Linked DNA regions of Homo sapiens. The protein of the gene in region 1 purifies or fractionates together with the protein of each later gene. This does not show direct contact. Each region holds a gene or a part of one and is shown on either strand. Other genes may lie near its edges.

Region 1 (3,652 bases):
ACAAACATTTTATAAAACTATCTAAGTCTTTAAATATTAATATATGGATGTATAGTTTTGATTTAAATAACTTTTATATATGTATGTATACACACATACATATACACACACACACACGTATATTTGGCAAAAGACCTGAGAAGAGTTAATAACCCAGATAAACACATAAAAAATAAAATCCAAACACTTATAGTTCCTTAGCCTGGGGAAATGAAAAACTGAATTGTGATAGTGATGAAAGATACAGAAAGGTAGGAAGAACAGCAGATTTAAAGGAAATACTGGTGAGTACATACATATATAGGATGTTAAAGATTATTCAAATAGAGGCTGGGCGCAATGGCTCACACTTGTAATCCCAGCACTGTGGGAGGCCAAGGCAGGTGGATCACTTGAGGACGGGAGTTCAAGACCAGCCTGGCCAACATGGTGAAACCCCATCTCTACTAAAGATACAAAAAATTAGCCAGGCGTGGTGGCACACTGTAGTCCCAGCTACTCGAGAGGCTGAGGCACAAAAATCATTTGAACCTAGGAGGCGGAGGCTGCGGTGAGCCAAGATCGCACCACTGCACTCCAGCCTGGGCAACACAGAAAGACTCTGTCTTTAAAAAAAACAACAACAACAAAAAAAAACAGATTACTCAAATAGAGCTGGGCATCGTGTCATACACCTATAATCCCAGCTACTAGGGAGACCAAGATGGGGGGACTACTTGAGCTCAGCAGTTCAAGACCAGTCTGGGCAATACAGTGAGACCTCATTTCTATAAATTAAAAAAAAAAAAAACTATTCAAACAGAGATGCAGCCAGGCACAATGGCACACACCTGTAGTCCAGCTACTCAGGTTGCTGAAGTGGGAGGAATGCTTGAGCCCAGGATTTCAAGACCAGCCTGGGCAACATAGTAAAACCCTGTCTCAACTTTAAAAGAAAAAGAGAGAGATATCTTTTAAATAGATAAAAATATAGGAAAGTAGTTTATGTGAGAAGCCAGGAATGAAATTTTTGGAGTCTTTTATACATAAAAGATAAATAAAGGGTGATATGGTTTGGCTCTGTGTGTCTCCACCCAAATATCATGTCAAATTGTAATCCCCAGTGTTGAAGGTGCAGTCTGGTGGGAGGTTATTGGATCATAGGGGTGGTTTCCAAAGGTTTAGCACCATTCCCCTAATGCTCTCTCATGATAGAGTTCTCAAGAGATCTGGTTGTTTGAAAGTGTGTAGCACCTTCCCCTTCTCTCCCTCTATCCTGCCAGCCATGTGAAGACATGCTTGCTTCCCCTTCGCCTTCCGCCATGATTCCAAGTTTCCTGAGGCCTCCCCAGCCCTGCCTCCCATACAGCCTGCGGAACTATGAGTCAATTAAACCTCTTTTCTTCATAAATTACCCAGTCTCAGGTAGTTATTTATAGCAGTGTGAGAATGGACTAATACAAAGGGAAGAGGACTATGGTAGGTACCAAGTGAATGTCAAATTGAAGTAGGAAGGCAAGCAGCTAGAAAGGCAGGTAGGTGGGCAAATGGGAAGAAATGAAGGAAACTGCTTGGTTTACTATTTAGTTCTAGCCCCAAGCCGGGCACTGTGGTGTACACTTGTAATCCCAGCTACTCAGGAAGCAGAGGTGGGAGGATCATTTGAGCTCAGGAATCCAAGACCAACGTGGGCAACATAGCAAGACCCTGTCTCAAAAAAGAGTCAAGACCCTGTCTCAAAGAAGAGTCCTAGCCTCAAGGGTGAGAAGAGAAAAGTAGAAGCATACTGAACAAGAGAAAGAAACAAGCAGAAAGATAAGCAAAAAGGACAAAGAAGGAACAATCAGTGATAAAGACCTAGCAACAGTGTCTCTGAAACCAAGTTTCTAGGAGAGGCTCAATTATGGAGTATCAAGAACTTGTAGAGGATTCTAATAACAATCCTAAAAGCTGCAGTGCATGATTCATGCCTGTAATCTCAGCAATCTGGGAGGCCAACAGCAGGAGGATCACTCGAGGACAGTAGTTCAAGACCAGCCTGGGCAGGCCGGGCGCGGTGGCTCACGCCTGTAATCCCAGCACTTTGGGAGGCCGAGGTGGGCAGATCACGAGGTCAGGAGATCGAGACCATCCTGGCCAACATGGTGAAACCCCGTCTCTACTAAAAACACAAAAATTAGCCAGGCGCGGTGGCACGTGCCTGTAGTCCCAGCTACAGGAGGCTGAGGCAGGAGAATCGCTTAAACCCGGGAGGCAGAGGTTGCAGTGAGCCGAGATCACGCCACTGCACTCCAGCCTGGGTGACAAAGCAAGACTCCGTCTCAAAAAATAATAATAAAATTTAAAAAAAAAAGGACCAGCCTGGGCAACATAGCGAGATCCTGTCTCTACAAAATTAAAAAATTAGCTGGGCATGATGGTGCATACCTATGGTCCCAACTATTCAGGAAACTGAGGAGTGAGAATCGCTTGAGCCTAGGAATTGGAGGTGTTGCAGGAAGCTATGGTCACGCTACTGCACTCCAGCCTGGCTGACACAACAGGACCTTGTCTCAAAAAAACCCTTAAAAGTATTTAAAGAATTGAAACATAGAACTAGGAGAAAGAAATATAGAATGTTAGGCTGGGCGCGCTAGCTCAAGCCTATAATCCCAGCACTTTGGGAGGCTGAGGTGGGCGGATCACAAGGTCAGGAGATCGAGGCCATCCTGGCTAACACAGTGAAACCCCATCTCCACTAAAAACACAAAAAATTAGCAGGGCATGGTGGTGGATGCCTGTAGTCCCAGCTACTCGCGAGGATGAGGCAGGAGAATGGCGTGAACCTGGGAGGCGGAGCTTGCAGTGAGCTGAGATCGTGCCACTGCACCCCAGCCTGGGTGACAGAAGGACACTCAGTCTCAAAAAAACAAAACAAAACAAAATGAAGAATTATAGAATGTTACAGAAAAGATTTTAGGAAACTACTCCTTTTTTTTTTTTTTTCCTAGAGACAGGGGCTCACTCTGTCAACCAGATTAGAGTCCAGTGGCATGATCATGGCTCACTGCAGCCCTGACCTAGCAAGCTCAGAGATCCTCCCACCACCTCAGCCTCCCAAGTAGTTGGGACTATAGGCATCCACCACCACATCTAGCTAATTTTTTTATATATATTTTTGTGGAGACAAGGTCTCCCTATATTGCTCAGGCTGGTCTCCAACTCCTGGGCTTAAACAATCCTCTCACCCTGGCCTCTCAAAGTGCTGAGATTACAGGTATGAGCCACCACACTCAGCCTGGAAACTACTGTTCTAGCTCCTTTTTTTAGCACCTTGCACTTGGTTCTCCAACCAAGCAATGCCTTGCCCCCAGGCTGCCTAATGTGGTATTTCACCCTTTTCATCTACAAAAAAGACAATACTCCACCTACCTCCTTCTCAAAAGATATCCATTGTACTATATTTCAGTAGGAAGGTGACTCTAAGTCACAATGGAAAAAATCATAACTTGGAGATTAAGAATGATGACTGTGTAGATGGACTGCCAACAATAAAATTCTGTCTCTAACTTCTAGTAGCTATGTGACTTCAGACAAGTTACTTATTCACTCTCTGTGCCTTAGTTTCCTCATCTGTAAAACAAGAATAATAATACTTACCTAATACGATTGTTATAAAAATTAAATGAGAACA
Region 2 (3,652 bases), on another chromosome or scaffold:
AATGCTGCAATGAACATCTTTATGTGCTTGTGAATGAATTTCTAGGACAATACCACATTAAAGACTTACATTACCTTTAATTTGTTGATCATGGCTTCTTCAGAGTCCATAGACATGGATAACCCATGAATTAAACGTTTTGCCAGCATTCTTGCGTAGAACTACATTTAAAAATATTTTAAAAGATTACTTCCTTTCTAATGATTTAGCATTCAGAAATAAAGTTGACCAAAATACAAATGAAACTTTTCTGTTCACAACATACCTTTTGAAAGACGTCCTTGTCATCAATGTATTTGAACACTGTGATGAAGCTCGTGAGCCTGTCTTCCACTTCATTCTCTGTCATCCCTTTCGCTGACTTCTTCAGTAAGTTGTCACAGTACTTAGCAAGCTCATGTAGAAATTGATAATAAATCTTACAAAGGGTGCTTCTGTATATATCACGCCTCAAAGGAGGCAAAGTGGTGATACAAGGTAAGATCAGCGGACAGAATTTTTGCTGTTTTTTTTAGAGACCGGGTCTTGCTCTGTTGCCAGGCTGGATTGCAGTGGACAAGATCATAGCTCACTGCAGCCTCAAACTCCTAGGCTCAAAGGATCCTCCTGCCTCAGCCTCCCAAGTAGTTGGGACTACAGGCATGCACAACCACACCAGGCTTCTAAAGCTTTATGTAATAATCATAAATGTAAACTAAATAAAATATACATCATAAGGTAAATTTTTAAAAAGAACAAGTCAAATATCAAATCATCACTTATTGACCAATAAAGCAACTGATATAAGTAATACAAATTTTTAAAAGAACACCTAGGTGAGTTTCGAGTGGTTTTATAATTTTTGACATTGAACAAGTACTTTAAAAAAAAGTTACAAAAATCTTGTAAGCAAGTTTCCTTCAAAGGTTACCCAAACTTTATCATCAGATTTCCTTTAGATTTCAGATGTAACAGAATCTACATGAAAAGTATTGCAAATTATTTCAAAGTAGATATACATTAAAACCCAAACTTTGTAAAATGGTTATTCTTTAAGACACATAGTATATTGCATTCCTTACATAAATGCCAAACTATATACAATGTAGATAATTTTCCTTCTATTTTTCTGAAAAATGCTACAAAAACCAAATTAATTTGATATTCTGAGTTCTCATTTTCTAATACTGACTTTTCATAAGATTACTTTTCAGCAACCACCAAACTTACCAGTTCAGGTGCTTTGCAAACAGACTTAGGTTCTCTGTAATTTACAACTGACGTAAGGGCCTGAATAAAAAAACACGCCATAATTAACCACCAGCCATAGGGAAAAAGTACAGCTAGTTCAATATAAGCCATAATCTGTACATCCAAAAATTACCCCGCCACATAAAACACAGCATTGCCGGTAGTTTGTTAATATTTTCATGCCTAACATGGTAGACTCCTCTGACTTTATTCTCTAATTACAAAATATCTATATATCCTGTTGCTATTCCAAGATATTCTGTAACTCATTATCGAAATTTGAACAGATAAAATAACGTTACTTAAAAAAAAACTTACAATCTTGTAAGCAGCTTTCCTTTAACGTATGCAAAAGTTCATGTAAAACATATCTATTCTCTTTTCAAATATTATTCAATATAGCCTAAGTATTATGGCCAAAGAAAAAAAATCAGTACTAAAAATTGCAAAATTATGCATGTCTATCCAGAACATATCAGATTAAAAATTCCCCTTATATAGCATAATCACGGGACATTCTACAAGCATTCAATTTAACTATTCAGTTAATAATTTAAAAATTATATTATTTCTATTTTGAATTTCATATCAAAATTACTTAATCTCCATGTCTACATCAGAAACCTCATACTAGAATTCTGATCTTGAAACTGCCTAAAGAATGATAGAGTTTTATGTACATATATAGTATATATGTATTTAAAACTTACCTTATCCAACGCACTCATAAAATGCTGATCACCATTCAAAACAGTGTTGATAAGCTGAACAAATTTACCATGCACTTCCAAAACTGACTCCACAAATAGTGTTGGCATCTAAAAATGAAATATAAGTACAAAACCACATTTTAAGAGGTTCAAGGATATCCAAACTATGAGGTTTATTAGACTTATTAGTAAATTTTTCCTCAAGGAAATTATGTTTCACACATGCACACTTCTCAGAAAATGGTTTTAGCTAAGACGGTCTTAGAAATTTACAACTTTGGTGTTGAAGGCTGGGCACAGTGGCTCACACCTGTAATCCCAGCACTTCTGGGAGGCTGAGGCGGGCGGATCATGAGGTCAGGAGATCGAGACCATCCTGGCCAACACGGTGAAACCCCGTCTCTACTAAAAATACAAAAAAATTAGCCAGACGTGGTGGCGTCCACCTGTAATCCCAGCTACACGGGAGGCTGAGGCAGGGGAACTGCTGGAACCAGGGAGGTGGAGGTTGCAGTGAGCAGAGATCGCACCACTGCACTCCAGCTTGGGCGACAGAGTGAGACTCCGTCTCAGAAAAACAACAACAACAACAAAAAAAAAAAAAAAGGAAGAAAGAAAATAGCTTGTCATTCAACACAACAAGCTGTCATAGACTGTCTAGTACCTGTCAGAAGAACCCACCAAAAGCATACTTTTCTACTGTGTTGGAATAACTTATCTTAAGGATAACAAGACCTGAACTACCAGGTCTATCACTTTCATAGAGGCTTAAATAAGCAAAGACTGCCTGCAAAGTCACTAAAGGCTGAGAGAAAGGAGAGTTAAAAAGCCAATAATCCTGAGAACAGAGACCCCTTGAACTCGGCAAGACAATCCCTCACATCTCAGAGAGAAGAAATACCTAATAGTACAAAAGTGAGTTTTCCCTCTTAATGGAGATAACCATGAAGAAGTTACTACCTAAGACTTAACTAAGTCAGTTGGATTTGAGTCTACCACAAATGTATTCACTTATGTTTCCATCTCCCAGCCTTGACACAAAATTCGATGCTTCTATGCCCAATGTCATTGGACATGGAATCTATAAACGTAATAATGTAAACTAGTAAGTTTGACAAATAATAGAGTAATAAACCTGAATACTATAAACTAATAGTTCTACAAAAAATAGAAAACTGTGGTAAAGGGAATTTGAAGAAATAAAAAAATAGAAAACTTACACATTATTGTGGCATAACATAAAAACTAAAAATTATTACTTGCCAAAAACCAATCTGCAGCTAAGGTAACAGCCTCTAAAAAGTGCTCCTGAACAGTGACGTCTATACACAGATACTATCTTATAGATGAAGGGCAAACAGCTCTACTTAAGAAGAGACAGTAACATTTGAAGTTATTTCTCTCTTGCTCATCAAACATTACCAGTAATAACAAGATTTGGTGATGGGAAAGACAAACTGTTACAGTACAAACTGTTACAGTCATGTGATTGGCAAAGTATTCGAGAAAGATGAGTATTAGGGATATGAGGGTTATTGTTTTGGGTATTTGGGGCAGCAAGCATATACTTACAGAAGATTATTTTAATCTAAATTTGCTTCCTGGACAACCAAATTCAGAGGATATGGAAAGGAGGCAAATTGCAAGTCGTCTATATTACCACTGATTAATACTACTACCATGACAACAAACTACGTTATCAATGCCAATTA

What was found. Proteins that work in one complex are often made in the same cells at the same time.
Region 2: the proteins of ARNT (region 1) and CUL2 purify together in Homo sapiens (affinity purification with western blotting; 2 studies listed by BioGRID, with this or other methods). This does not show direct contact.

What each region holds. Positions count from the first base shown.
Region 1 is NC_000001.11:150,866,596-150,870,247, forward strand, and holds part of ARNT (aryl hydrocarbon receptor nuclear translocator), read right to left. Parts: intron 1-3,652. UniProt on the Homo sapiens protein: Required for activity of the AHR. Upon ligand binding, AHR translocates into the nucleus, where it heterodimerizes with ARNT and induces transcription by binding to xenobiotic response elements (XRE).
Region 2 is NC_000010.11:35,031,226-35,034,877, forward strand, and holds part of CUL2 (cullin-2), read right to left. Parts: intron 2,049-3,652; coding exon 1,941-2,048; intron 1,270-1,940; coding exon 1,210-1,269; intron 395-1,209; coding exon 266-394; intron 162-265; coding exon 75-161; intron 1-74.